Linked DNA regions of Homo sapiens: all the other regions are reported to be linked to region 5. Evidence: microRNA targets listed by miRTarBase, many of them from high-throughput screens and not tested one by one. Region 5 holds a microRNA gene; each other region holds the end of a gene's coding sequence.

Region 1 (6,029 bases), not on the chromosome of region 5:
CGGTGTTTTCGCTCTTGTTGCCCAGGCTAGGGTGCGATGGCGCAATCTCGGCTCACTGCAACATCCGCCCCGCGCCCCGCCCCTCCCCGGTTCAAGTGATTCTCCTGCTTCAGCCTCCCGAGTAGCTGGGATTGGAGGCGCGCGCCAACACGTCTGGCTAATTTTTAGTAGAGACAGGGTTTTGCCACATTGGCCAGGCTGGTCTCGAACTCCTGACCTCAGGTGATCCACCCGCCTCAGCCTCCCAGAGTGCTAGGATTACAGGTGTGAGCCACCACACCTGGCCAACAAATCCTTTTTAAAGTTTTAAGTGGTTGTGAAATCGTGGCACTTGGATATGTGGCTACTTTTTGTTTGGAATTTTCAGAAATGTTTAACAACATAGAGAATAGCAATTTGTTTATATTTATAATTATTTTACTACAAAGTTTATATAAAATTGCAATATTTATTTTGGTATTTTAAAGATGATTTTCATTTTTAACTTAATTGCTTGAGACTAGAATATCATTTTTTAGATTTTTTTTTTTTTTGAGATGGAGTCTTGCTCTGTTGCCCAGGCTGGAGTGCAGTGGCGCGATCTCAGCTCACTGCAGCCTCTGCCTCCTGGGTTCCAGCGATTTTCCTGCCTCAGTCTCCTGAGTAGCTGGGATTACAGGCACATGCCACCATGCCCGGCTAATTTTTTGTATTTTTAGTACAGACGGGGTTTCACCATGTTGGTCAGGCTGGTCTTGAACTCCTGACCTCGTGATCTACCCACCTTGGCCTCCTAAAGTGCTGGGATTACAGGCGTGAGCCACCGCGCCTGGCCCATTTTTGAGATTTTAATGTCCAGCTTTTATTATAGAAATTGATGTATGAAGGTAAAAACCCTGGAGAGTTGTTAGTACTAACAAATGTTTAGTAACAAATGGTAGTAAGGAAGAATCTAAGAGATAGTCTTTGGTTAGACCAGAAGTAACCAAGAGAAAGCCATCAGGAGAGCCCATTATACAACGGAGGTCTGCTATCTCTAATAGCATTAGAATGTGCTAAACAGTAAAGTATGCTTTTTCTCTTTTGGTCCAGGGTGGTAAATCTCGTGAAAAGGTGGTGAAGCTTTTGGCTTCTACAACTCCAGAAGAGATCTTGGAGAAATTAAAAAAGGAAGCCAAAAAAACATAAAAGCAAGAAATGAGGCCGGGCGCAGTGGCTCATGCCTGTAATCCCAGCACTTTGGGAGGCCGTGGTGGGCGGATCACCTGAGGTCAGGAGTTCGAGACCAGCCTGACCAACATGGTGAAACCCCATCTCTACGAAAAATACAAAATTAGCCAGATGTGATGGCGCATGCCTGTAATCCCAGTTACTCAGGAGGCTGAGGCAGGAGAATCACTTGAACCTGGGGGGCGGAGGTTGCAGTAAGCCGAGATCGCGCCGTTGCACTCCAGCCTGGGCAACAAGAGTGAAACTCTCTCCCCCCGAAAAAAAAGAAATAAAAAATACATCCTTGAGAAACTTTTTTATTGCTAATGGTGAAGAGGCTGTTAAATAGAAAAATATACTACATGCACAGAAGAACATGGGGGACATATATATATGTATATATTCGAATAAGACTCCAAAAAGTAGAAATTTAAAAAGTGCTATACATTGCATCAGGTTCTAAAATCCCAAACCCCAAACAGCCTGGAACATGTTACTCTGATTTCATGGCGTTGTAAAATAACAGAGCTGGGAAGAATATTCAAGATGACCTGATTTAACACCTTTCATTCTGTTGGGGGGCCTTTGATTTCCTATATCCAGAAGTTGAGAGACTTACTCAAGATTGTACCATGCAAGCTGGCAACTAGAACCCAAATCCTTGGACTACTTGTTGAATGCAGTTTTTCTAGATTGTAAATTAAAAATCATATCTCCACAACGGTTCTGGAATTCTGGGGATTGCCTTCTAATCCAGTTTACAAGTGACAGAAAACCTGTTATGCTGCTTTGTAGTCTTACCTTAGATTTTTAAATGCTTATTTAAATGTAAAAAAAATTTTTTTTTTACATCTTTTAAAGACTATATTTACCATTTTGTTGAAAAAGTAAAGAAAAATCATGACTTGTAATTAAATGTGAATTATAATTTTTGAGAAGTCACTGAATTTTCATCTTCCTCTAATAACTTAAATAATCAGCAAATTCAGTAGTTTTTATGAATCTCCAAAGATCCTTAAAAGAAGAAAGAGGACTTGGAAGCTATTTTCAGTATTTGTAAAAGCTTGTCAGAAATTACATCTATATTAAAGTTTCAAAAGCTAATAATATATTTTTACATCTTCAGGTCAAGTTATAGTAATTTATTAAAGAAAATAAAATTAATTTCCTTTGCTGATCAGGAGAGCTGATCTGCAGTTGTGCGCTTTGTCCAGCAAGTACATGAGAAAGATGTATTGATGGACCAAATCATTAAAAACAAAATCCACAAGGAAGAACAATAATAAAAATTGCTGATGGTAGCTGGGCTTGGTGGCTCACGCCTGTAATCCCAGCGCTTTGGAAGGTTGAGGCAGGAGGAACACTTGAGCCCAGGAGTTTGAGACCAGCCTGGGCAACGAAGTGAGACCCTGTATCTGTCTCTGTCTCTTTCTTTATAGATAGATAGATATACATAGATAGATTTTATACATAGATATATATATTTATATGTAAGATTATATATAAGACCTCATATATAAGAAGTCCAGGCCGGGTGTGGTGGCTCATGCCTGTAATCCCAGCACTTTGGGAGGTCGAGGCGGGTGGATCACCTGAGGTTAGGAGTTTGAGACCAGCCCGGCCAACATAGTAAAACCCCATCTCTACTAAAAATATAAAAACTAGCCAGGCATGGTGGTGGGTGCCTGTAATCTCAGCTACTCGGGAGGCTGAGGCAGGAGAATTGCTTGAACCCAGGAGACGGAAGTTGCAGTGAGCCCACACGGTGCCACTGCACTCCAGCCTCGGCGACAAGAGTGAGACTCCGTCTCAAAAAGAAAGAAAAAATCCCAGACAGTGAAAGAGAAGCTACTCGTCTAGTACAACTCTTAACTTGTACCAAATAGGTATCAAGGGCAAGAAAAGGTGGCTTATGTGAGATCACAGTGCACATTAATGGCAGAGCTTGGTTTAAGCCCAGCTGCTTTGTCTTCTAAACTGTGCCATATACTGCCTGCAAATGTGCTTCTGTTTTACATGGTCTTAAGAGCTTTTCCCACTCTTTCTCAAGACCATTGCCATGTGTGCTGTAAAGCCGTTTTACTTGTGGATTTTACATGGATCACTGTTAGAATGTCATAAAATGATATCATAAAAGATCAACTTTCCTGGCCGGGCATGGTAGCTCACACCTGTAATCCCAGCACTTTGGGAGGCCAAGGCAGGTGGATCACCTGAGGTCGGGAATTCGAGACCAGCCTGACCAACATGGAGAAACCCCATCTCTACTAAAAATACAAAAAATTAGCTGGGCGTGGTGGCACATGCCTGTAATTGCAGCTACTCGGGAGGCTGAGGTAGGAGAATCGCTTGAACCCGGGAGTTGGAGGTTGCGGTGAGCTGAGATCGTGCCATTGCACTCTAGCCTGGGCAAAAGGAGCGAAACTCCATCTCAAAAAAAAAAAAAAAAAAAAAGGATCAACTTTTGGTCAGGCGTGTTGGCTTACGCCTGTAATTCCAGCGCTTTGGGAGGCCGAGGCAGGCAGATCACGAGGTCAGGAGTTCAAGATCACCCTGGCCAACATGGTGAAACCCCGTCTCTACTAAAAATACAAAAGTTACCTGGGCATAGTGGCAGATGCTTGTAATCCCAGCTACTCGGGAGGCTGAGGCAGGAGAATTGCTTGTGAACCGGGACCCTGGAGGCAGAGGTTGCAGTGAGCCAAGATCGCACAACTGCGAACTGCGCTCCAGCGTGGGCTGCAGAGGCAGACTCCGTCTCAAGAAAAAAAAAAATCAGCTTTCTTTCCTTCCCCTGAATCTTCTGCAGTGCCAGTTTCATCCTCAGGCCCACTTGTTTCATGTAGACAAAAGGCCAACCAGGTTTCATATTCACGTATCAACCCCTGCAGTAGGAGAAAAGGCCACTCCTAGGAGCTCTGGTATTTTCCAGAAGCTTTCAGTCAGCCTTCCCTTGTATCAGCCCAAATCAAGTCACATGAAATTTCTAAGCCAGCCCCTGTGATCAGGGAATGCCATTCTATAACACAAGTTCCCTAAAGCAGTAACTATAGAAGAAAGAATTACCCTAATTGTTTCAGGCCAATTAAGGCCCATCCTAGAGGTGGAAATGGGGTCAGCATACTCAGAAGCAAAGAAGTAGAGAGAGTTGGATACCTGAATAAAATTGGGAAAAGTTACAAAGAGAGGAATGGATGCTGGAGAGGAACCACCAGTTTCTACTACGATAACCTATTTACTTCATTTTAAACGGTGATATTTTAAACGTGGGAACATTTTGCCTAGTGAGTTTTTTTCTTTGAGAAACGTAGCAGTATCTTGTAACAAAGAAGATATGGGGACACTCTGTCATCAAAAACTACTTTGGGGCCGGGCATGGTGGCTCACACCTGTAATCCCAGCACTTTGGGAGGCCAAGGTGGGTGGATCACCTGAGGTCAGGAGTTCAAGACCAGCCTGGCCACCATGGTGAAACCCCACCTCTACTAAAAATTACAAAAATTAGCTGGGCGTGGTGGTACATGACTGTAATCTCAGCTACTTGGGAGGCTGAAGCAGGAGAATTGCTTGAACCCGGGAATCAGAAGCTGCAGTGAGCCGGGATCACACCACTGCACTCCAGCCTGGGTGACAGAGCAAGGCTCTGTCTCAATAACAACAACAAAAAAACAGAAACAAACAAAACAAAACAAACTACTGTTGGAGGTAGGAACTGGCCCAGGGGCTGTATTCCCAGAACACGATTCCCTTTTCCCCACTGCAAACAAGATAGTCTACAGCAGCCTCACAACTTAATTGTCTCACACAGGACTATTCCTACTGTTAAGAGATCACAGCTAAGGCTTGGGCACCTTGACCTGCTGTAGAAGCTCAGTTAATGTACTTTTCATCATCTGGGCCCTGGTATTCCCCTGTAAATACTGAAGTAGACCCAGTGACCTAGTGCCCAAGACACAAAATATTCAGCCTCCGTAACATTTGTCTAATGACATGGTTCTAGCTTTGCTCACTCCCATTAATTTCAAGTGAGTACTGGCTAGGCAGTCTATAGTGACTTGATTACACTGTCTTTCTTGTCCTGTGCTGTCCTGAGAATCCTGGATTTGAAGCAGCCTATGAATAAGGTTTGAAAAATATTTATCCAACTATGCCGACATATGATGTTCTAGCACTGCATCTGTCATCTATCACCCGCACCTTAATAAATGATAATTACTTGTGCAAACATGATGTATTAATCACTTATTAACTTGGTTGCTTACTTGACAGACACTGCTAGGTGGTTTGCCTATGCTGTACTTCGACAGATCCTGGGAAAGAACAGCCTGGCTCATTATGCCCTGGAGGCAGGAGCAGAGATTTCAGACTTCTGATTTCTGTGAGCCATTCCACACTTTCCTCTCGGTTAGGGGAGGGACAGCAATAACCAGAGGATGAAGGTGGAACCTTTGCAGTGCACACCTAGGCCAGTGCAGTGGCTTATGCCTGTAATCCCAGCACTTTGGGAGGCTGAGGCGGGTGGATCACTTGAAGTCAGGAGTTTAAGACCAGCCTGACCAATATGGCGAAACCCTGTTTCTACTACAAATACAAATATTCGCTGGGCATGGCAATGCATGCCTGTAGTCCCAGCTACTTGGGAGGCTGAGGCCTGAGAATTGCTTGAACCCAGGAGGCAGAGGTTGCAGTGAGCCAAGATCATGCCACTGCATTCCAGCCTGGGCGACAGAGATTCCATCTTGAAAAATAAAGTTCCAAATACCTAAATGCTCAAACTTTAGGAGGCAGCTCTCTGGGCTGTGGGCTGTCAGCATCCCCCTCCTAGATTCCAGGGATTTGGT
Region 2 (5,954 bases), not on the chromosome of region 5:
GCAGGCGAGATCTGGAAGGGAATGTCCAAAGAGAAGAAAGAGGTGAGTAGCAGCAGAGGAGGGGTGATGCCTCTCATGGGCTGGCGAGAGGTGCTGTCTTGGGGTGGCGAGTCTCATGACTGATAGGGGAGCAGTATGAGCCATTGGTGGGACTTTCTGTATCGATTTTGCCTGCATCAGGGGAGAGGGGAGATGGGAGAGGTCTTATTCTTAACTGTTTTTTTCTGTGTGTGAGACAGGAGTGGGATCGCAAGGCTGAGGATGCCAGGAGGGACTATGAAAAAGCCATGAAAGAATATGAAGGGGGCCGAGGCGAGTCTTCTAAGAGGTGAGTGTCGAGAACATGGCCCAGTCACTGATTTTTGTGGCAGACTTTTTTTTTTTTAACAGGCCGAAGTTGAGCATTGGAAAGTTAAAGACAGCAGAGATGCTTCTGACTGCAGTAGGGTAGTGCTTCTCAAACCTGGGTAGGCCATTGCCCAAGTATGGGTGACACAATAGGGCATTCAAGTCACTGGGGAAATATGGCCTCTTTTCCTGGACCATTTTATTTGAAGGTATGGGGGAACGAAAAAAATACTATTATGGAGTGCAGTGCACAGTTTGCATGAACTCTAAAAGATAAAGCAAGAAATATCAAGTAGGTTTTGCACATTGGGCTGCTTTAGGCTGTGCCCTCTGATTCTTCTGGTGTACTCATGATACTCTCCCTTGGTGCCCTCCAGGCTGACGCAGCTATTTACGTTCAGAGTGAAATGGGCTGTGTGGCTGGGATTGGGAAAGGCCTTGTTAAAGCTGGGAGAGGTTTGGTCATGGTGACAGGGGACCTGAAGGCCCAGCTCCTCTTCCCTCTTGCCAATACAGGGACAAGTCAAAGAAGAAGAAGAAAGTAAAGGTAAAGATGGAAAAGAAATCCACGCCCTCTAGGGGCTCATCATCCAAGTCGTCCTCAAGGCAGCTAAGCGAGAGCTTCAAGAGCAAAGAGTTTGTGTCTAGTGATGAGAGCTCTTCGGGAGAGAACAAGAGCAAAAAGAAGAGGAGGAGGAGCGAGGTGCGGCAGGAATGTGGGGCCTGTGGGCTGGGCAGGGTGAGGGGCATGTGTGTCTGTGTGGGGTTGGTCTGTAAGAGTAATGAGTTGGAGTGGATGGTGGAATTCTGAGGTTCTGAAGGGGGGTGCTGTAGTTGGGGGCGGTAGGGAATTGCGGGCCCTTCACTGAAGAGTGGGTGGGGCACCCAGGACTCCAGCTTTTCCCTTAAGACACCTTTGGTTTTCAGGACTCTGAAGAAGAAGAACTAGCCAGTACTCCCCCCAGCTCAGAGGACTCAGCGTCAGGATCCGATGAGTAGAAACGGAGGAAGGTTCTCTTTGCGCTTGCCTTCTCACACCCCCCGACTCCCCACCCATATTTTGGTACCAGTTTCTCCTCATGAAATGCAGTCCCTGGATTCTGTGCCATCTGAACATGCTCTCCTGTTGGTGTGTATGTCACTAGGGCAGTGGGGAGACGTCTTAACTCTGCTGCTTCCCAAGGATGGCTGTTTATAATTTGGGGAGAGATAGGGTGGGAGGCAGGGCAATGCAGGATCCAAATCCTCATCTTACTTTCCCGACCTTAAGGATGTAGCTGCTGCTTGTCCTGTTCAAGTTGCTGGAGCAGGGGTCATGTGAGGCCAGGCCTGTAGCTCCTACCTGGGGCCTATTTCTACTTTCATTTTGTATTTCTGGTCTGTGAAAATGATTTAATAAAGGGAACTGACTTTGGAAACCATGTCCTCATGCTTTCTTTGTAGCCTTGGTGTGTTGCTCCCACTTTTATTGGTGGTGTTTACTGCTCTGGTCAGACTGGGCAGGGCCTTCCTGGCCAGCCGGGAAGCAAGTCTCGAGGTACATCCTGTTCTGTTCCCGGCTGGACGAGCATTGGTTTTCACCCGCCTCTGCCCGGATGGGCCACCTGAGAGTCTAGAAATGAGAGCTGATCTGATTAGGAAGTTTCTCCCAGTTACACTCCATTAGCCAACCAAGCTAGGGGGAGGCAGCTCTTGGCTGCATCCTTACCTATGAGTCAAGGGTCTTCCAAGGCTTTCGATAATGAAATCAGGATTGACTGTCCTTCCCGCAGCCGGGGGAGTGGAAACCTGAGCCTGGAGAGTCGGGGAGGATGAGCGTGTGCGTAGAGTGGTGGTGGTTGCAGCCTGGTGGTGGTGCAACAAAGTACGGAGTTATATGTGAAGCTTTTGTTCTTACGGGAAGAAGGGGGTATACAAACTTCAGTGTAGGGAGGAACCCATGTCTGAGAAGGGGCCTAAAAGGAGATAAAGGTCACTAATGAGGAATGCAGAGCTGCCAGACTTCTTCACGGTGGCTCTAAATCTGAATTGACACAGGAGGGTGGCCACGTTGCGCGCGTTCTCAGCACTCAGGTGGTTGTATCAGGAAGCCGCTTCAGTCAGCCGGCGGCTACCTTCTTGCCGGCGTAGCTCGATGATACTGTGCTCTGTGCAGGCGGCGGAGCCCGGGAGGGGCCGCCAAGGCAGTTTCTCTAGGCAGTCGTCTCGGTGGCCATTTTACCCGAGCGCTCCCGGCTGAATTGCGTCAGTTTCGCCCCGGTCTGAGACTGGGGCGGGCCCCTCATCTGCAAGCCTCATGAATAATTGAGTGCTGGGCCGCGCCTGTTTGCCGACGGTGGGACGAATTCTGCACGGGCTTCCCACTCCCGGGTTCCAACCGGCTCATGCATATTCATGAAGCGCCCTGGGGGCGTGGACCTGGGCGGAGTTGGGGCGGGGCCCCGCCGGGGCTCGCAGTGGCTTCGTCCCGCGGTGACGGCGGCGGCGGCGGCGGTAGCAGCGGCGGCGGCGGCGGGGACTGGCATCGGGGCCCCGAGCCGAGCGGAGCCGGACCCCGGGCGAGCGCGTGAGTGCGCGGGGGCGGTCGGGCGAAGGAGGGGGCGGGGTCCGGGATGGGGCGGGGGAGGGGCATGGAAGGAGTGGGTGCTTTCCAGCCGACACCTCGGGTTGAGGTGGTGGTGGTCGGGGGGTCACCAGGAAAGTTTGCAGGGGCCGAGGGCGCTGGGGACGCTGGAGGCCCGGGGGAAGGTGGCGCGTGTGCGCGGAGGCGGAGGGCGCATGGCTTGGAGCTCGTGCTGGCAGAGCCAGAAGAAAGGGGGGAGGGGGCGAGGGCTTGGGGCGGGGCCGGGGGCGGGCAGAGCCGCTGGAGGGACCCCTGCCTCCCCTTCCTCCGGGCCGCGCTAGCCCCCTCCCCCGGCTCCTTCGGCACGCCCCCAGCCACCCCAGTCCGCCCCCACCTGATCGACGTCTGCAGCCCACCGTCTGTTCGCCGGCTGCTTCACAGCCCGCTCACAGGTCCTCCGCTTCTGCCGCCACCGCAGCCCCCTCCTCCTCCTCCTCTTCGGCTGCCGCCGTCCCTTCTGTGTCCAGAGCTCCCCACTGGGCCCCTCCAGACAGCCCATTGCCCGGGGCTGTTCCATCTTCCCGTTGGCCCTCCCTCTTTCCAGCAGTTTACGTGCTGTCCCTGCCGACCTCTCTAGCCTCGGATCCGGCTGGAGATCCTGGGGTCCATAGGGGCGACCCCGCCTGCGCCGAGTCCCCTCCGGGGCTGGAGCTGCCCAGCCCTTCTGGAGGCCTTATCTGCCAGGGGTCAGCTCGTTTCTACCCTGCTACCCTCTACCCCCTGGTCTCTTGAGGGTGGGGAGTGCTCAGAACCGCTGCGAATCGCAGCTTCTGGCCACAGCCTTGGTGGCCTTGGTCACCTGGGGCCCCTGGCTGGGGTCTCTGAGTTGCTGTGGCCACCTCCGCACCTGGGGACTCTGAGCCCGCCTTCATTGCTGCAGCCCCTCATACCGCAGAGGGGCCCATCAGAACCCCAGGTGAAAGGATTTTTTTGGTTCTGAGCCAATTAATTTCCATCTCCAACCACCCACACTATGTTCCTAGTAATAATGTTCAAGGACAAGGAAACAATCTTGTGTTTTAATTTTATTTTTTCTATCATGTGCCCCTCCCCCCACCACACTTGGCCTGGCTCTGCACAGTTATTCACCCACCCACAGTGGGCAGTCTTCCGTGGTGGTTAACTGACCAATGGGTTGACAGTACTGGGTTTCTCTACTGTCTTCATACCCTCTCCCATCTTTGAAACACCTGGGGCAGGGTCAGCGTTAGGGGAGGGGTGTTGGATTTTGCAGAGGATGAGCACTGGGGGTCCCTTTTAAGGATTTGGTGCTGTCTTCCCAGACCAGCTGGAGTGGGTGACTTTAAGTGAGGCAATGCCCCTTGCAGGTTGGAGAAGTTTGGGTTGTCCTCAGGGCTCTGCATACCAGGTGAGGGAAACTTCCGCCTTGCATGAGAGGTGCAGGGCCCTATCCCCCAGGGTCTCCATGTTTTTGTGGGTGGGAGAGTGCTTCAGGAGTCAGGATGGGAACTGAGGAGGTGGTTGGAGTATCTGAAGAACAGGTGACAGGACTAGGGCCTGGGAGAGTGAAGGAATGGTCTGGGAATGCTGGTAGCCTGGGGTCAGGGAAGAGGAGGAGGTGGTTATCAGGGATGTTAGCTCATTGGTGACACTGAATGGAATCACAGTAATAATAGGCAACATTTGTTGAACACTTATTATGTGCTAGGCATTGTGCTAAGCCTATTTCATGTACTATTTCATGTAAGCCCCCTCAGGGTCTCAATAATCCCATTTTTCAGTTGGAGAAACTGAGGCTTGGAGAAGTCACAGGGCTAGAAAGTGGTAGACCCACCCAGCACTGAATCTTGGTATATCAGATCCTGAAGCTCATGTGACAGGCTTCTACCACCAGGCTGTGCCTCTTGGTTTAATTTCTTCTGTCCCCCTCAGAACTCCTTAAAGCCAACCCTAGGCTGGTGAGTGAAGCCCACATAACCCCTTTTCATACATAGGCTGTGGCTGCTCCACCCTGACTGTCGTGGAAGGTGGAGCCCCAGGGAATTTTCCCCCAAGTCACTCCACCCCCCGGATGTTCTCAAGCCCTGTCCCGTTCTCCCAGCCCAGGCCTGGGCCGGCTCCTCCTTCCTCTTGGCTAGGCCCTGGAAATCCAGTGGGAGGCCATTGCTATGGCAACAGGACTAGGCCCTGGCTTTACCTCATCAAATTCCAAGCTGAAGCCAAGCGATTGAGAAATTAAAGAAAAAAATATATTCCAGATGTTTACTTTTTATTCCTTATTTTTCCGTGTTTGGATGAGACAGTTCTGAGGGAGGGGAGAGAGTGGGGCAGGGATGTGGAAGGAGAACAGGGAGAGGGGGGAGAAGGAACCACTCCCAGCTGCGGGAGGGAGGGAGAGAGGGAAGGAGGGTGAGTGGGAAGGGGGAGGCAGGCAGTGGGGCGGAGCCCAGGTTGGGGAGGAGCGGGTTTTTCCCGTCTCCCGTGAGGTGATTCACAGACAGACTTCATACTTTGCAGCTCTCTAGCTCTGCTTTGAGTAGACACCTCCAGCGGGGCCGTCCTACCCAAGGGGCACTGTGGGGACTGTAAGTGGGGTGTCTTGGAGAGCTTGTCAGAGGAGGGAGCAGTGAGTGACTCCCTGAAGCGCTAGGACTTTGGGGTTAGGAGATAAGAGTTGGGGAGGATCTTTGAAGAGTTGAGGATATGGCTGTTGGGAACCTCCCTTGACCTCCTCCTACCCCCCCCCCCCCACTCCAAGTTCTCTCTTCCTGTCCCACACTCTGCCTCTGTTAGAAATAGGAGACTTCTCTCTGCTAAACCTACTGGCAACGCCCAACTCTTTTTTTCCTTCTCTTCTCTCTCTTTTCCTAGGTCTGCAGCCACCCCAGCTCATACCTCTCTGCCTCCCCGCTCTCAAGGAGGGTCTGCCGCATGTGATGAAAGTGTCTACTCTCAGGGAAAGCTCAGCCATGGCTTCCCCACTGCCCCGGGAGATGGAGGAGGAGCTGGTGCCTACTGGCTC
Region 3 (6,002 bases), not on the chromosome of region 5:
GGTGAGGCATCGCGTGAGCCCGGGGAGGTCGAGGCTGCAGTGAGCCGTGGTCTCGGGAACAAAAAACAGCCGCGCTGAGAATGAGCCCCGTGTGGTTGGTGCGCGGACACGCACTGCCTGCGTAACTAGAGGGAGCTGACGGATGACGCCCCCGCGCCACGCCGCTCAGCGGGATACGCTTCTTGGCGGACTTTGGAGTGGGAAGCGGGGAATGTCTACGTGCGTATGCACGTGGCACTCTCTGCCCGAGGTCCGGGGACTTTCCCCTAGGCGGAAAGGGGAGGAACAGAGTCCTCAGTGTGTAGCCTAGGATACAGGCCTTCAGCACGAACCACGTCCTCAGCTTCACAGAGTAGTATTTTATAGCCCTAAAGAAATTGTGTTTTATGATTAGGGTGAGAAAGTTGGTGGCGTGAGATTAAAAAAACCGTTTTCGGGCATAACTTTCTAAGACTATAGGCTTTCAGAGGCATTGTGGCTAGCAGAATAGCTAATAGACACGAAATGAACAAATACAGGAAAGCTAGAATGACACTATCTTATGCAAATATGGTCTGGCCCCGCCCTACGGGGAGTGGGCGTGGCCTCCCCGGAGCCGGCCGGCCTGCTCGCGTGCGCGTGCGCGTTGGGGCGGCCGGCCAATGCCGGACCGCTTCGGCACCGCCCGCCCGATCCCTCCACCCGTGGGCCGGCAATGGCGGGCGCAGTTTCGCTCTTGGGTGTGGTGGGGCTGCTGCTTGTGTCTGCGCTGTCCGGGGTCCTAGGAGACCGCGCCAATCCCGACCTCCGGGCACACCCAGGTACCAGCTAGGGCTGCTGGAGGAGGGCTGGGACTGCGCACGGGTCCCAGGCCCCAGCTCGGCTGACTCGCCTGTATCCTCCCTCCGCAGGGAACGCAGCCCACCCCGGCTCTGGAGCCACGGAACCCCGGCGGCGACCACCGCTCAAGGATCAACGCGAGCGGACCCGGGCCGGGTCGCTGCCTCTGGGGGCGCTGTACACCGCGGCCGTCGCGGCTTTTGTGCTGTACAAGTGTTTGCAGGTACGGGGCGGCCGGGGGTAGGGGTGCCCCTGCAGGTGCGGGACCGCCGGGCGTGGGGATCCCCTGAGCCCGAATCTCCCATGGGGGTGCCAGGGTACCAAGAACAAGACACAGCTTCCCTGTCTGTAAAATAAAGACAGTAGTCCGTTGGCCTTCCAATATTATGAGGTTATTTTGAGGATCCAGGGAGGTAACGGATGTGAAGAGCGTGTGGTGAACTGTAAATAATGACTATCACATTTAGTTCTCCTACAATCCAGTGAGGAGTAGTCACTTGCTCGAGGTCACCCAGCGCTGGCAACTGCTGGAGCTGGGATTTGAACCCAGCTAGCAGTGTCCATGCTACAAGAGTGGGGCCAGCCTTGGCACAGGAGGTTGATTGCTGCAGCCAGTGTTTCTAGAGTTCCAGATATGAAGTGGTCTCATGTTCTCCTTGGGAGGAGGCCCTGAAATGTAAGTTGACAGTACATTTTGAAAAACAGTACCTTCCAGGGCTGTGTCTTTAGCCGTGACCCTATTACGTACTTGCATTATAAAATAGAACCGATGGAACCAGTTTAGATATATGAAACTAGAAGAGATAGCTAATAATGACCCCAGGTAGATGTGACAGGCTAGGATGAATGACTGAATTTAATGATGAACTTTGAGAAGGATAGACTAGTAAATTCTGTTCTTGGACCTGAGTACAGTCTGGGAGAAACATAATGTAGCAGGAGGTCTTATGAAAGAGAGTTAGGCATTCCAGTTGACTGAGTTCACTGTGGGATGTGACAAGCCACTTCCCAAATCAGTGCTGGGAACATGGCACTGTGCTTCACCTGCCAATCAGAATGCCCCTGGAGAATTGTATTCTCCTCAGGGCATTGCTTTAAGAGCACTACGTGTTCAGGAAACAACCAGAGAAAACCACCGTCAATGAGCACTGACTGTAAAGACTGACGTTAATAAACCAGAAAAAACTCAGGAAAGTGGGTGAGGGTGTGACCATTGCCTTCAAATTCCTGAGGGGCTGTCACCTTGAGGAGACATTATTTTGGAAGGCTCCAGTAAGCACTATGGAAAGAAGATACATAAAGGACAAATTTTGGCTTTGTGCATGAACTGTCTAACAACCAAAGTTTTTGTTTTTTTCGAGATGGAGTCTCGCTCTGTCACCCAGGCTGGAGTGCAGCGGCGCAATCTCGGCTCACTGCAACCTCTGGCTCCCAGGTTCAAGCGATTCTCCTGCCTCAGCCTCTCAAGTAACTGGGATTACAGGCACCTGCCACCACGCCCGGCTAATTTTTGTATTTTTAATAGAGACAGGGTTTCACCGTGTTGGCCAGGCTGGTCTCAAACTCCTGACCTCAGGTGATCCACCCACCTTGGCTTCCCGAAGTGCTGGGATTACAGGTGTGAGCCACAGCACTCAGCCACCAGAGCTTTTTTCAAACCGGAGGGAGTTGCTCATTCCTGGAGGTGTTTCAGCAAACTGACCATGTGTGGGACATAGGACGTCGCTTCATATGCTGGGTGAGGAGCTAGATAGACTAGGATTGTGATTCTCTGAGGTAAAAACCCAATCACTGTCTCCATCTCAAATTGCACTCTCTCTTGGCTGGCTCTGGAGACTGAGGTGATGGAGCAGAACCTTGTTGCTTCAGTACTGCCCTTTCCTTCTTCCACAACAGGGGAAAGATGAAACTGCGGTTCTCCACGAGGAGGCAAGCAAGCAGCAGCCACTGCAGTCAGGTGGGTTTAGCAGAAGTCTGTGCTGGGTCGGGGGAGTTTAGGGGACAGCAGAAGATACATAACCACTTCTGCCCCCTTTTTTCCCTTATCCCCAGAGCAACAGCTGGCCCAGTTGACACAACAGCTGGCCCAGACAGAGCAGCACCTGAACAACCTGATGGCCCAGCTGGACCCCCTTTTTGAGCGGTGAGGAGAGCAATGATTCTGTGAATTTTTGGGGAATTTGTGGCAGGAGGGAGGAATGGGGACATAGGTTGGGAGCCACTGAGTGGACATTTCTTCAGTGTGACTACTCTGGCTGGAGCCCAGCAGGAGCTTCTGAACATGAAGCTATGGACCATCCACGAGCTGCTGCAAGATAGCAAGCCGGACAAGGATATGGAGGCTTCAGAACCAGGTGAAGGCTCGGGAGGCGAGTCTGCTGGAGGTGGAGACAAAGTCTCTGAAACTGGAACATTCCTGATCTCTCCCCACACAGAGGCCAGCAGACCTCTTCCTGAGGACTTCTGTTTAAAGGAGGACGAGGAGGAGATTGGTGACAGTCAGGCCTGGGAGGAGCCCACAAACTGGAGCACAGAGACATGGAACCTAGCTACTTCCTGGGAGGTGGGGCGGGGACTACGGAGAAGGTGCAGCCAGGCTGTGGCAAAGGGCCCCAGTCACAGCCTTGGCTGGGAAGGAGGGACGACAGCTGAAGGTCGACTAAAACAAAGTCTGTTTTCATGATGGAGTGCTCCTGTGTGTTTTTTCGATCCTAGTTGGTTGTACACACCCATACTAGGTGCCTAAGGACAACTGGGCCTTCTTGAAGAGCTGTCCTTATTAGGACAAAAAGAGGCTGCCTTCCAGTGTGACAGCAGAGAAGATAGAGGGAGCTCCAGCTCTTTTCCTCGTATTCCTGAGGCCACCAGCATGCCCGCGTTCAGGGCCCAAAAATCCCTTTTCTCATAGCAAAACTGAGACAGAAGGGTCTTTCCCAAAAAAAAGAAAAAAAACTTTACTCAAATCCAGTGGAAAAATAAATGATAGAAACTATACACAACATAAAAATAGCCACATTTACAAAGCTGCAGCCTTGATAAATGACGGGCCATGGACACAGCACAGAGCTTATCAGTCCCAAATCCCCTCATCTGTGTTAGGGGCTGGTTCATTTGAGGTTTAGTTGGGTTGGACTTGGTTTCCTGATTCTTCTTTTTTAATAAAATTTCTTAATTATTTTTTCTTAAATAGAGACAGGGTCTCACTCACTGTGTTGCCCAGGCTGGTCTTGAACTCCTGGGCTGGAATGATCCTGCCACCTCTGCTTCCCAAAGTGCTGGGATTACAGGCATGAGCCACTGTGCCTGGCCGTGATTTTTAAGAGTTGGTCAGATGATCTGGAGTAGCTTGGTCCAGGCAAACAGAAAGTGACCTTTGTCAAATCATGAAGGGTTCTGTTTTGTTCAGTACTGAAGATTCCTTTGTACTCTTGGCTGTGACCTATCCCTGAGGTATCCTGAGTTCTGGAATCTATAAGATTCCTCTAGTTTTTCTGGCTGCTGTGGAGAGAAGACAGTCAGTTCAGGCACTGGTATGAGTGCTTTATTCAGACAAAATCATCTGGGGGTTGGTGGCTGGGGTGTGCCAGACCAATGTAGGGCATGAGACAGGAACTGCATATTTCCTGCTTGTGGGCCTCATCACAGCACCCTTCCTGGGGGAAGACACAACTTACCTGATAGCCCAAGTCAGACTGTGGTACCAGCGTGACAGCTCCTCCTGGTCTGTGGACATAAGCAGTAGCTTCTCATGAGGGAAGGACAGCTAGAGAGAGACCACCTCTTAGCGCATGGCTCAGAAAGGTCCAGGCTAAAGCTGAAGCCCTTGCTGTTTCCATGGAGCTAATTCAGGGATGAGACAATGACTAGGTATGAAGCCCGAGCCCCAGCTATCCTCTCTCAATGTAGATGGCTCTGTTCCTATGAAAAGGGACCCAGACCAGGGAGATAAACCAGCCCATAAGCATCTGAGACATATTTTGGGTCTAGGGTTCCCACCTATTACTTACACTGAGCAACCCACCACAAGGGCCTCCTGAGTGGCCAAAGACCCTGCTGAGATGACACTGGGCCATGGGGTAGAGGGCCTTGCAGGCAAAGGTGCCACTCCGCAGCAGGTGCAGTGGAGGCCGAGGCTTGGCCATGAGGAGCACATCAGTGAAGAGGAAGAACATGCGGGGCCGAGGCTCCCCATGGGGAGGCACCACTAACAGCCAGCCCTGGCGTAGGAACCAGCGCCCTGGGGGATGGGAGCGCTGTTATTCTGGTGCAGCTTCAAGATACATGGGAATAAGAGGAAAGGGAGGCTGAGAAAATAGGGGTTATGTGCTGGGTCAGTACAGGAAGAAGGGTGAGTAAGAAAAGAGCAGCTGGTCGGCATTTGGAGTTAGATAAAAATAAAAGATGGGGCAGTTGAGGATTGAAGGGGAAGTAGGCAAGCTACCTGAGGTCAGCCCCTTTGCCTGGCGTCCACTGAGCAGAGCCTGGACACGCCGAAGGTGCTGGTCATTCTTCTGTTTCTGACCAATAGTATGGACTCTCTGGGCAGTCTCACTTATCAGTCGGGCAGCCCCTGGAATAACATCTCCCACCTTACTCCCCATACAACTTTGACTTTGGGTGCCATGGTTGTGAAAGAGGTTATTCTGGAAGGGACCAGGGTCAGGGTCTGACTTCTTGAAGAAAAGGCAGAGCAGTAGGGACACTGTATACATGTCAGTGGAAGATAGGGTCATACCAGACATTGTTGGAGGTCAGAATCAGAAAGGAATACAGGAGAGGAAGCCTCCAGCCTGCGTTGCCGAGGAGCAAGAACCTACGTGTGAGCTGTTGATGGTCAGGGCTGTTGGGACCTGTGTTTTCAGCCAAAGCTACGACGAGATTCTCATACCTGGAATTCAACAGTGGGAAGTCTGAGGGGAAGCAGAGCCAGGCAGAATTCCCCCTGCCTGATGTGCAGATCACCCTCTACCCATACTTCAATTGAAGGCCAGGAAAGATCTGCTTCTGGCTACTGTATCCCCTTCTTTCATGTAGGACTCAGAACCAGGCTCACACCACACAGCCCTCTTCCATCCCACACTGAAGAGTCACTGGCAGACTAGCCATACTTCAGGAGGCCAGATTGGAAGATGAAAGTTTATCAACCCAAGGAGGATGCTACAGACAGCCTGACTATAGCCCTT
Region 4 (5,894 bases), not on the chromosome of region 5:
ATCCTTAGGGAATGGCTGTGTCATTCCTGTTGCATGATTGCCTGGAAATGCTCTGATTCCTGCCCTTTTCCAGGGCCATTTGCCAACTCTGTAACCCTGCCTTCCGGCCCTTTCTGTGAGGCACTGTGATATCATCATCGAAGTAACTTTTGTCTACCCTAGATAAATTGGGTCTCTCTCTTTTTTATTTTTTTAACAGCTTTATTGAGATACAATTAACATACCATACGATTTACCCATTTAAATTGTACAATTCAAATTTATGTAGTATGTTCATAGGGCTTTTTAACATCACCACAATCAATTTCAGAACATTTTTGTCACCATAAAAAGAAACCACATACCCATTTCCCCTCAACCTCCCAGCATTAGGCAACCACCAATCAATCTACTTTCTGTCTCTATGGATTTACCTATTCTAAACATTTCATATAAATGGAATAATAAATTATGTGGTCTTTTGTGATTGGATTCTTTTCTTTTTTTTTCTAAATTTAATTTAATTTTAAGCTCTGGGATACATGTGCAGGACGTGCAGGTTTGTTACACAGGTAAATGTGTGCCATGGTGGTTTGCACCACCTATCAACCCATCACCAAGATATGAAGCCCTGCATGCATTAGCTATTTATCCTGATCCTCTCTCTTCCCCTGCCCCCAACAACAGTCCCCAGTGTGTTGTTCCCCTCCCTATGTCCATGTGTTCTCGTTGTTCAGCTCCCACTTACAAGTGAGAACATATGGTACTTGATTTTCTGTTCCTGCATTAGTTTGCTAAGGATAATGGCTTCGAGCTCCATCCATGCCCCTGCAAAGGACATGATCTAGTTTCTTTTTATGGCTGTATAGTATTCCATGGTGTATATGTACCACATTTTCTTTATCCAGTCTATCACTGATGTGCATTTGGGTTGATTGAATGTTTTTGCTATTGTGAATAGTGCTGCAATGAATACACACATGCATGTATCTTTATCATAGAATGATTTCTATTCTTTTGGGTATATATTGGGTTTTTCTTGACAGCAAAGAGCCTGAATTGATACAAAGGTGTTTATGTTAATCTTTTAAGTTTGCTTGTTTATTACATATGTATTGCATGGAGGGCCAGCACTTTCTAAGTGCATAATAAATATTAACTCTTTAATCCTCACAATAATCCAGTGAGCTATTTACTACTAGTATCTCCTTTTTACAGATGAAACAGTACAGGGGAAGGATGAGTAGGTTGCCCAAGGACACACCGTCAGCAAGTGGAGAAGTGCAGGAACTGGGCTTCCACTTACAGAGGCTGTGCTACTGAATGCTAGTCTGTGCTGCCCCTCAGTACAAATTACTATGCTTACCAGACCAAAAATAATCAAAGAGCCAACTGTCATCCAGTTTTGAGGATAAATGAAAGGTAAGGCACAGATGATGTAGAGCTGTATTTACTGATGTGACAATGTCCATCTTATATTGTTAAGTGAAAAACATTGATTAGCACATTTTTATTTATGAAGATGGTATACCCACTGCCTCCCCACTCCCTGCCTCCCAAACACACAACCACATTACAAAGCCTAGAATCACTTTCATCAGAATGTCAACCACGGTGATTCTCCTCACTTGGAGAGGACCACCAAGCTCTGGGTTTCTTAGTGGCAGGAGGTATGAAGTGCAACAGCTTGGAGCTTTGGAGGGGATGCTCTGACACGTTCCAGACCATTGAACCCCTGAAAGCTTACCTATATGGCATATCTCTGTATCTTTGTAACGTTTTTCTCCCACCATCTGCAGTGTTTATGACTTACTAAGTCATTCAGAATAGTCAACATTTCTCGCTTATCAGGCTCATGAACATACTGTCATCAATACAGTTGACCAATGTAATGTATTGCAGAGTGTCCAGAAAGCCTATATTGTAACACAGAGCAGGATTCACCTTGCCCTGGAGCAAGACTGTAAAGATATACTCTTGTCCAATCCTTGAGAATGTGAATTTCCTCTCAACCTACATCCTGCCGGATCCTTTAAAAGTGGCATTTCCGTATTAATAGTTGCATATCACTTGCTAAGGCTGTGCTAACCCGTTATAATAAAGATACCACGTTTGACACAGCAACTGTAATAGGGGCTACTCCTTGGTTAAGTTTTAGGAGCCATTTAGCAGCATGAACCACCAGGAGATACCAGAGGGCAGACTGCTGAATTAAAATGGAGGTGTAACTGGGGTAACAACCCCTGCCTCCTCCATGTCTTTGTAGGTGGCACTAATCTCTATCATTCCCCAAGAATGTGATATTGCTTTTAACTTACTTGTTTTCACCATGAAACTTCAGTTTCAGAGGCTTCTGCTTGGCCTTCCCTAAAACAGTCATTGTTATTTCATAGGTTAGGAAACCAGAGGTTAAGGAACCAGGTCAGCCAATTGCTATATTTTATGATGTATGTATGAATGTATATCCTGATTATACATTCAGGAAATGGGGAAATGATTGCTGGGTGGCCTGTGGATCCAGAGGGCCCATTGTGAGATGGACATTACCTCACCTCCACGTACTCTACTCTAACAGGGGCTACGAAAGGGCTTTGAGTCCTCAGGGATTAGCATCAACTGTGATATTGTACTCAACATCCCTTGAAAGATCTGTGTATTTTCCTTTCCCCGGCATGTGAGTAACTCAAAAAATTTGGCCATAGAGCCCTCCCGTGAAAACTTGAGGGAATCAGTGATGCGCACACTTACAAGGTTCTTCCTTATGAGAAACTGCCCTCATTTCCATCAGTGAGTTCTGGATTCCACTGAGAACTGGCTGAGGTTTGGAAGCTGGGCAAGGGGTCTAAGACTTTACCTTTAGATAGCTGACCTCAGCCTTCTGCTCATCTATTTTCAATCTCTTTTGATTATATGTCTAAAGCAATATGTGTCTTGCCTAGAGGAACAGCATGTCCTAAGAGCCATCTTCATGGACACCTACAGGTCAGGCCTCCCAGTTGTCACTCTAACGTTGATGCCCCTTACGGAAATTACTTTATCTTGTCCTCACAGTTAAATGCTGCCACTTGGCCCCTGTTATTCTGGAACTCTATCATTTTACTCACTACTGGGGGATCCAGTTCTATAAAACATCCCTAGCATTATTCCAGCCTGCAGGGGACAGCCACCATTGAGCTTCTTAAGGATGTGCTGCCCCCTCAACAGTGCATTCCTTCTCACCTTAGTTAGTGTCTGAGACACATTAGTAGTGTCCCCTTTGGAGGAACTCAGTCACCTGATGGATGGATTCTCCAGTTGTAGAGTGCAGAGTCATTCTAGCACACCAACTTCTCTATCCTTGGGACCCACTTTTCCAGACTCTGCCACAGTAGTTCTGGTATCTCTGCTTCCACTTGATTTAATGTGTACCATGGCTTATACTTAGTCTCTAGGAGCCACCCAGGAGTATATCAGAATCATCACCTTTGGCCCAAGCCAGGCTAGTTAAACTCTGTGGTAGAGAAGCTTGCCCCTTTGCCAATAATCGTCACTTATCTGGTTTCACATTTCACCCTTCCTGGACCAGGATCCACTCCCAGACACAATCTCCTTGCTCCTGCTGATGCACGCTGGCCAGTCCTACAGCTCCTTCGGAGGATAAATGCTCTCTTCATTTGCTGCCCTCCCCATGATTGTTCACTTTCATTGTCCTGAGCGGTCTCTATACAGTCTTCATTCTAGAAAAATCGGGAGTTGGGTGGGGGTGGTAGCTCTCTCTTCCAACAAGGGGCAGAAAGACTTTTCTGCAAACCCAGTAGGTTCAGGGGGCATCTGGAGTTCAAAGTTCTCATGTACATCTACCTAGATAGCCCCATGCTGAGTTTGAAGGCCTTGACTTTGGCATAAGAGACCATCCTGAGCTTAGAATTCAGTGTTCTCTGAAGTTCTGCGATTCATAAAATCAGGTCTGTACCAGACCTTCCTTGCTGTCTGCCTTCCAGCTCCAGGTATGAGGGTCTCTTCTCTTTAGGTTGGTAATGAATAGATCTAAGCCTGTCATTTACTCTTTTCAAGACATTAATGGCACTTAGTAATACCCACCAAAACCCATATTTCTTATAGTTACTTTTCCTCACTTCTTAAATGCCAGACAATTGTACCAGCTATTTTAGTACATAGCTGTACTAAAATAGCTTGACCTGCAGCTCATCCAATTTACTACAGGTGAAAATTTGGGCAACTGCTCAGTGATAGCACTTCTGGGACTATCCATATTCCACCCAGCATCACTGGGCTAGACAGTGATCCAACTCCAGAATCCTGTCCTCAGAGCTCGCTTCCTGGGGCCATTACTTTAGGTTGCATTCCCCAGAAGCACATTCTGGGATGAAGTCCATTAAGCAAGAGATTGATGGTGAGGGTTTGCTCAGAAGGGAGTGGGGGAAGCTCATCATGTGGGCAAAAGCTAAGCCACGATGTGGCCACAGCTGGAGACTAGCTCCAGCCTGATACCTGGGAGCACAGAGTAGCCACACACCACACCCTTGGTCCTGCTTTGAGGCAAAGGGGCCGGCCTCAGGCCACGGGGCGTCACTTCCAGGTGAAGCTGATTCCATTTAACGAAGGGTAATACTCTGGGGACTGCTGGCATCAGCAGCCACCACTCAGCAGCTGGGGATGAAAAGACCTGGTCAGAAGAGGAGATGGTGCCAGGATGCCAACCGCTTTGCAGGGGAGGGAAAAATGGCTTCCCTCTACCCTGCTAGGTTCTTTGGCTGAGCTACGAATGAATTAAATTGACATAAGTAGATTGACAGGAGGAAAAAAAATTTAATAATATATGTTTGCACAGGAGTTCCACGAAATATGAGACTCCAAGAAGGGTCAGATGATTGACACTCATACACCATCGTGAGCTATCGAAAAGAACGGCAGTTTGGGAGTTCTGCAGGGAGTTGACCACAGAAGTGGGAGAGTGAAGGGAAGAAGTGTGTCGTGAATAAAGCTTGGCTGGTTTTCAGATAAAAGGTCTTGCGAGTGGCCAGGTGTGGTGGCTCACTCCTGTCACGTCCCAGCACTTTGGGAGGCCAAGGCGGGCGGCTCATGAGGTCAGGAGTTCGAGACCAGCCTGGCCAACATAGTGAAACCCCGTCTCTACTAAAAATGCAAAAAATTAGCTGGGCATGGTGGCAGGCACTGTAATCCCAGCTACTTGGGAGGCTGAGACAGGAGAATCACTTGAATCCGGGAGGCAGAGGTTGCAGTGAGCTGAGATCGCGCCATTGCATTCCAATCCCGGGTGACTGTGTGAGACTCCATCTCAAAAAAAAAACGGAGGAAAAAGGTCTTGTGAGTAATAAATGTTGTCTGGAGCAGACCTCAGGAGAAGAGGTGAGAGTCTGTCTGTGCTGGTATCACCTCCAATCTCCTTCCCTGTGATCTCAGTTCCTCTTCCCTGGTTGATGAGATTCTTGGGGATGGGATTCATGATGATCAAATTTCTTTTGAGGATTTGTTTTTGGGCAGATGAGGGAGGCTCAGAGAAAAGCCTCTCCCTGCATGTGCTATTTCCCAAGTGCTCTCAGTTTGAAGTCAGTGGCAACCAGTAGCATATTTCCTGAAGGCCTTCAGCATCCACTAAACCAGTCAACTGTTCCCATTTGTTTCCTGAATAGCAAACACTTCCTTGAAATCCTTCTCAAATTCAGCCTCCAGTCTAAGTCCCATTTGGCCAAAATCCTTATACTGGAAAAAAGTAATAAAGACAAAAACGATGTTCCTTATCATTAGTGTCATTAGATACCTTTCAACTGAGAATGATCAGGACTCTTGTCTTTAAAAAATAAAAACTGTAAGTTGACAATTTATAATGGTATGTATTTTGGAGTACAAAGCAGTGTTGTGATTTATGACTGCTATGTGGAATAATTAAATCA
Region 5 (6,029 bases):
GAAAAAAACAAATAAAATTATATATATATAACACATATATATTTTATATATATTAGGCAATAAATATATATAGCTTAAACCTTACAACTTCATGTTTAATCTCACAACTTCATGAGGTAGGTACCATTATTATTATTATTATTTGAGACGGAGTGTCACTCAGCCACCCAGGCTGGAGTTCAGTGGCACGATCACGGCTCACTGCACCTCCGTCTCCTGGGTTCAAGTGATTCTAGTGCCTCAGCCTCCCAAGCAGCTGGAATTACTGGCAAGCACCACCATGGCTGGCTAATTTTTTGTGTTATTAGTAGAGACGGAGTCTGACCATATTGGCCAGGCTGGATTATTATTAAGACAGGGTCTACCTCTGTCACCAGGTGCAGGATCATGGCTCACTGCAGCCTCGACCTCTTCGGCTCAAGTGACCCTCCCGCTTCAGCCTCCTGAGTAGCTTAGCTGAGACTACAGGTGCCACCTATCACACTGGCTTTTTTTTTTTTAAGACATGGGGTCTCACTATGTTGCCCAGGCTGGTCTCGAATTTCTGGGCTCAAGCAGTCCTCCAGCCTCTGCCCCGCCCCGCAAAATGGTGTGATTACAGGCATGAGCCATGTCTCCCAGCCCTAAATAATGATTTTTTTTTTTTGAGACAGGGTCTCACTCTGTCATCCAGGCTGGAGTACAGTGGTGCAATCACAGCTCACTGCAGCCTCAACCTCCCAGCCTCAAGCAATCCTCCCACCTCAACTTCCCAAGTAGCTGGGACTACAGGTGTGCACAACTAATTTTCTTTCTTTTCTTTCCTTTCTTCTTTCCTTTCTTTCTTTTTTGTAGAGATGGGAGTCGCATTGTATTGCCCAGGCTGGTCTCGAACTCCTGGGCTCAAGAGATCCTCCCACCTATGCCTCCCAAAGTGCTGGGATTACAGGCGTGAGCCACTGTGCCCTGCCCTAAATGATTTCTAAGATGCTAAACAACCCTGACGTACGGTCAATCCTCTGGTTCTTTCCCCTCTGACCACATTCTGACCTCTTCTCAGAATATCCCAACCATTTCTGTTTTCCACCTCTGATTCCACCTTGGATTCCTAGAGCTCTTAGGAGAGAGAACCCCCTTAGCAAGGAACCTCTCAACAGCCCCAGGCCCAGAGTGAACCCGGGAGGCGGAGGTTGCAGTGAGCCGAGATAGTGCCACTGCACTCCAGCCTGGGCGACAGAGCGAGACTGTCTCAGAAGAAAAAAAATAAAAGTATATGTATGTATAACATATATATAATATAGATTATATATATATTAGACAATAAATATATATAGCCTAAAGCTCAAGGTGTACCCCCCACATCCCGTTCATTCTGCCTAAGTGCACAGAGCTGGGGTCCCCTCCCAACACCACCCCTTCACAAACATGTAGTAGCCTAACAGAATACTTAAGATCAAAATAACATTCTGCTGTTTTTGGATTTTTACTTACATGATCCTATTTAATCCTCACAGTGCACCTGCCGAGGAGAAGAGATTATTATCCCGTTTTACAGAAAGCTCAGAAACAGAATATGGCCCCTTAACCACCAGTTGCTGATAATGCCAGGTTGGACCTCTGGCTTCCCAGAGCACTACACCCAGCAGTCCACTGCAGTCCACCCACTGACATCCCCTGGAACCCAGAAGCAAGTGCGTTTTAATCTGCAAGACCTCGGGGCCCTGGGGAGGTGGGATGGCTAGCATGTGGGTGTTGATTAACTGGGAAACCGGCACGAGTGTCTTAGAAGTACTTCACAAAGGAGCCGGGTGGGGAGTGAAGGAGGGGGTGGGGCGTGAGACGTTAAGAAAAATTGGATTAACGTGTCGTGGGCTGGGTTGCATTAACCATTCCCAACACTATCTCTGGGGAAGTCTCACACCTGATATTCAATAGACATCCCCTGTAGTGGGTGATGTTGGCAGAGGCAGGCGACATATACAATAATATTTTTAGAGATCCTTGTTCACACTTCATCCGCACCAGAGGACTTCAGCCCCTGTGGTATTCACTCCTCTTTAGGGCTAATTTGAGAAACTGTCTCAGATTGGAATCCAGCACCTAGAGATAGGCTGAGGTGAGCAGGCTGATCTGTTCAGACGCTTCGCGGACCAGGTTAACTTTACAAGCTCATTGGCTTCCAGAGGGTTGGGGACCCTTCTTATCCTCCTAGCTCAGAGGGAAAGATTCAAGAGTTTACTCTTCGCCCAATGCCCACTTCAGCTAGGGGTTCCTGGAAGAACGGGGCTGTGGAGTATCTCAGAAAACTTTCCTCCCTCTACTGTCTTCAGGCCCCAGGAGACAAACCTCCTTCCAAGCCTCCTGGTCCCAGTGGCTTCCCTCTCACCGAAATCGAAAGAACCCGAGTCCCAGCCCGACCCCTTCTCTCGCCGAGCCCTGGCTGGGATACCTTGGCCGGGAGGACAGGACGGCCTCAGGCTGGCCGCCAGACGCACTCCGCAGGACGCGCGCGCTCGAGCCTCGGTGGACTCAGCCGCCGGCCCCGGGAGGCCGCCTCCCTGCGCAGCACCTCCTGCCACCCGCGCGGGCACGTGGGATCTTGACTCGCCGCCCCCGCCTCCTTCTGCTCCGCGTCCCCAGCCCGCGGCTCGGGGCGCGGCGTGGCGCGGCGCGTGGGCGTGCTGCGGGGCGACCATGGCTGTAGACTGTTACCTCCAGTTCCCACAGTAACAATCGAAAGCCACGGTTGCCCTGGAGACGCGGGGGCGGGGCGCGCGGACGGCGCCGGCGCGGGGCGGGCTGACGTCAGGGCCGCGGGGGGGCGGGCGGGGCGGCGGGGGCTGAGGAGCGCGCGTGGGCCACCGCCCCTCGCAGCCCCTAGGGACCCGGACGGGGCGGCCCGATGGCGGCGCCTGCGTTGATCAGCACCGCGGACAGCGGCGGCGCAGGCAGCGGGCCGGGGGCGGGGCCCTGAGGGACGGGGACTGGGGGTCCCCGGGCGCGGCGGCGGCGGCCGGGGCCGCGGTCCTGGGGCGGGGCCAGGCGTCGGTGGCCGTGACTGGAGACTGTTACTGAGGGCGGCCCGGGCAGTAAGCAGTCTAGAGCCAAGGTGCCGGCGCGCTGTCCGGGCGGGGTGCCCCGGTCGCCCCGGCTGCCCCGGCTGGGGGCTCTGCTGCTCCGCCTCCCCTGCGTCTCCCGCCCTGCCCCGCCCGGCGCTCGCGACCAGGCACGCGGCCCCTGACGTCAGAGGGCCGTGACGTCAAAGATGTCCCAGAGGGGGCACTTCCGGCGGGGGCGTGGGGGCGGGGCGGGACCTGGGAGGCCCCGCCCCCCCGGTCCTGAGAGGACAGCTCCGCTCGCAGAGGCGGGAAGCCGTGGGCGCCGCGGGACCCGCTGGACGGGACCTGCCGGGAAGGGGCGCCCGACGCCATGCGGGGCGGGGGTCCCAGGAGGGCCGGGGAAGCGGGGGTGGGCGTCCGTCTCTCGCCTGCACCCCCGCTCAGCCGGCCCGGGCAGCGAGGCTGAGTCACCGCGCCGCAGGGAGGGAGAGGAGGGGGCGCGTCTCCTGGGGCGCCAGCACCTTCGCCTCACTTTCCTGGGAGAATGGCGCAGGAGCCCCAAGAAAGCCGGGGGGGGGTCTCCGAGGTCGGTCCTCCACTCGATGCTCCTCCGAAGTAGCTGCGTGTCCATCGGGCGCCGGCAGGTGCTGCGCGGGCTCGTGTCGTCTCTGGCCCCGGCTCCGCAGCCGCGAGGGGACCCCGGTGCCCCCCGTCCGCCCCCATCCCCACCCCGGAGGGGCCGCCCCACCCGCCGCCTGCCCGTCCCCTCCTCGTCCTCCCGTCCGTGTCCGCACATCTGTCCCTCCGCGGCTGGTCCGTCCCGCTTACCTGGCGGGCCGCGTCGCCACTGCCCGGTCGCCTCCCGCAGCCTGGCCGGCGCGGCGGCTTTTATAGGCGCGCGTAGTACTCGTGCGGCGGCTCATTCATGCGGCCGCGGCTCCTACACACTGACGCGCTGCCGACGTCAGCGGGGAATTTAGGAAATGGGAAAAGGGGCTATTTATAGTGGCGAGGCGGGGGGTGGGGACCGAGGCGACCGGGAGGGGAGGAGGGGGCGCGGAAGCGGCGGCGGGGTAGGGGGAGCCGCGCCCCTGCCCAGCCGACAAGGGGTTAACTTTCCGGAACCGCGGGCCTGGGGCCGGGGAGGCGGCGCGGAGGGGCGCGGCGGGCCCTTCGAGCTTATTCACGCTCTCCTTCCGGAGCCCCGCGGCTCCTGGGGGTCTTCACGTGGCAGCCCCTTCCCCCTCCTCAGTTCCTGGACCTGACGTTTCTGCCGTCACACCCCGCAAGGCCACTGCGGTGTCGCCACCCTCTCGTCCTGCAGGGTGGGCAGGAGAGGAAGCTGGACTCCCGTGGGGGCCTGGGGCGCAGCGAGGGCTGTGGCGTCGGGGGCCGGGAGAAGAAGAGTAGGGGAGCCCAAAGTAGCCCAGGAGTCTTTAGCGGAGGAACCTGGGCCTGGGAGGGAAGGCCCAGCGGGGATTCAGGTACCACCCAGGAGCTGGAGACCCGAGGGACGGCAGAGAAGTTGGGGAAGGTGGGCCAACCTCCCCAGAAATGATGAGCAACGGGATCCTCTATGAGGGAGCTGGGGGAACGCGCCAGAGGTAGGGGTGAGAGGAATGGGCAGCCTCAGCAAGGGAGAGAGGAAAGGCTGTCAGTGCCACGCTCCAGAGCCTGGCATCCAGGACCCACCTTCGGACCATTTGTGGCACGATGGACGCTCCCAGAGCTCACGTTAGGGTAATAGAGAGTGAAGGAGACCAGCAGCTTGGCCAAGAGGGGCCCCCAGGGGATGAGGAGGACGGTTTCCTGGAGAAGTTAATGTTCCCGGAGACCAGAATTGGCAGGGAGAGCCCATGACTTGTGGGGCAGTTCCCCTGGTTGGGAGCGGGGAAATGCATGGTCCTGGCCCAGCCTGGCTCCATCGAGATGGAGGAAGGGTCTAAATGAGAGGAGTGTGTTCAGACGAGGAGCTGGACCAGGATGGGGAGGGCTGTGCAAGGCATGGCCGGAAGAGCGGGGCAGGGAGAGAAAGGTCGAAGAGTGAAGTGCACAGGAGGGCAAGGCGGTCCTCACCCTGCCTGGGCTGGGGCAGGGCTGTGAGACCCTCCCTTACAGAAGCAATGAGGGCTTGAGGAGGGGGTTAGGGGCCTGGGCTGGGGCAGGGCTGTGAGACCCTCCCTTACAGAAGCAATGAGGGCTTGAGGAGGGGGTTAGGGGCCTGGGCTGGGGCAGGGCTGTGAGACCCTCCCTTACAGAAGCAATGAGGGCTTGAGGATGGGGTTAGGGGCCTGGGCTGGGGCAGGGCTGTGAGACCCTCCCTTACAGAAGCAATGAGGGCTTGAGGAGGGGGTTAGGGGCCTGGGCTGGGGCAGGGCTGTGAGACCCTCCCTTACAGAAGCAATGAGGGCTTGAGGAGGGGGTTAGGGGCCTGGGCTGGGGCAGGGCTGTGAGACCCTCCCTTACAGAAGCAATGAGGGCTTGAGGAGGGGGTTAGGGGCCTGGGCTGGGGCAGGGCTGTGAGACCCTCCCTTACAGAAGCAATGAGGGCTTGAGGATGGGGTTAGGGGCCTGGGCTGGGGCAGGGCTGTGAGACCCTCCCTTACAGAAGCAATGAGGGCTTGAGGATGGGGTTAGGGGCCTGGGCTGGGGCAGGGCTGTGAGACCCTCCCTTACAGAAGCAATGAGGGCTTGAGGATGGGGTTAGGGGCCTGGGCTGGGGCAGGGCTGTGAGACCCTCCCTTACAGAAGCAATGAGGGCTTGAGGATGGGGTTAGGGGCAGTAAGTTAACTTGGGGAGCGGATGTGGGGGAACGCTGAAGAATAAAGACTGTGGGCACAGCAGACCCCTGGGGCAGGTTAGCAATGCACAGACTCCACTGCACAAGATACATGGGGCGGAGGGGCTCTTTGGAAGTCGGGGGTGGGGGATCTGACTCTATCAAAAAGAGAAAAGATAAAAGAGATGGGGTCAGAGAGGCCCTGCATAGT

The links. Region 5 holds the annotated microRNA hsa-miR-212-5p (ACCUUGGCUCUAGACUGCUUACU, at 3,068-3,090, opposite strand). A microRNA usually pairs through its seed, bases 2 to 8, with sites in the 3' UTR of a target mRNA and lowers its output. Matches are read on the target gene's strand: a 7mer-m8 pairs with bases 2 to 8, a 7mer-A1 pairs with bases 2 to 7 and ends in A, and an 8mer does both.
Region 1: miRTarBase lists C15orf40 as a target of hsa-miR-212-5p. Seed matches in the 3' UTR shown: 7mer-m8 at 3,383-3,389 and 7mer-m8 at 4,601-4,607.
Region 2: miRTarBase lists SSRP1 as a target of hsa-miR-212-5p. Seed matches in the 3' UTR shown: 7mer-A1 at 1,527-1,533.
Region 3: miRTarBase lists ARHGEF39 as a target of hsa-miR-212-5p. Seed matches in the 3' UTR shown: 7mer-m8 at 3,442-3,448 and 7mer-m8 at 2,408-2,414.
Region 4: miRTarBase lists SP140L as a target of hsa-miR-212-5p. The part of its 3' UTR that is shown has no 7-base or 8-base seed match.

What each region holds. Positions count from the first base shown.
Region 1 is chr15:83,000,735-83,006,763 of GRCh38, reverse strand. C15orf40 (chromosome 15 open reading frame 40) reads left to right here. Exons shown (of 4, transcript NM_144597.3): 4 at 1,072-6,029. The coding sequence ends at 1,167. Among named protein-coding and RNA genes, the nearest start is that of C15orf40, 7.9 kb to the left of the region's middle.
Region 2 is chr11:57,321,800-57,327,753 of GRCh38, reverse strand. SSRP1 (structure specific recognition protein 1) reads left to right here. Exons shown (of 17, transcript NM_003146.3): 14 at 1-42; 15 at 240-328; 16 at 865-1,051; 17 at 1,276-1,766. The coding sequence ends at 1,347. TNKS1BP1 (tankyrase 1 binding protein 1) reads left to right here and starts at 2,802. Exons shown (of 12, transcript NM_033396.3): 1 at 2,802-2,914; 2 at 5,804-5,954. The coding sequence starts at 5,869. RefSeq lists enhancers at 1,636-2,509, 2,539-2,588 and a silencer at 2,719-2,998.
Region 3 is chr9:35,657,686-35,663,687 of GRCh38, forward strand. It overlaps ARHGEF39 (Rho guanine nucleotide exchange factor 39), which reads right to left. Exons shown (of 9, transcript NM_032818.3): 5 at 5,637-5,707; 6 at 5,261-5,389; 7 at 4,827-5,056; 8 at 4,494-4,582; 9 at 1,658-4,317. The coding sequence ends at 4,302. CCDC107 (coiled-coil domain containing 107) reads left to right here and starts at 607. Exons shown (of 5, transcript NM_174923.3): 1 at 607-800; 2 at 891-1,042; 3 at 2,716-2,776; 4 at 2,872-2,962; 5 at 3,061-3,826. The coding sequence starts at 695. The coding sequence ends at 3,502. It also overlaps RMRP. RefSeq lists an enhancer at 1-387 and silencers at 470-729, 4,067-4,361.
Region 4 is chr2:230,402,607-230,408,500 of GRCh38, reverse strand. It overlaps SP140L (SP140 nuclear body protein like), which reads right to left. Exons shown (of 19, transcript NM_138402.6): 19 at 4,769-5,703. The coding sequence ends at 5,605. Among named protein-coding and RNA genes, the nearest start is that of SP100, 11 kb to the left of the region's middle.
Region 5 is chr17:2,047,261-2,053,289 of GRCh38, forward strand. It overlaps MIR212 (microRNA 212), which reads right to left and starts at 3,120; the gene lies at 3,011-3,120. MIR132 (microRNA 132) reads right to left here and starts at 2,748; the gene lies at 2,648-2,748. It overlaps LOC124903896 (a long non-coding RNA gene), which reads right to left and starts at 2,689. Exons shown (of 2, transcript XR_007065576.1): 1 at 1,901-2,689; 2 at 1,447-1,498. RefSeq lists silencers at 2,444-3,243, 3,254-3,403 and an enhancer at 3,949-4,844.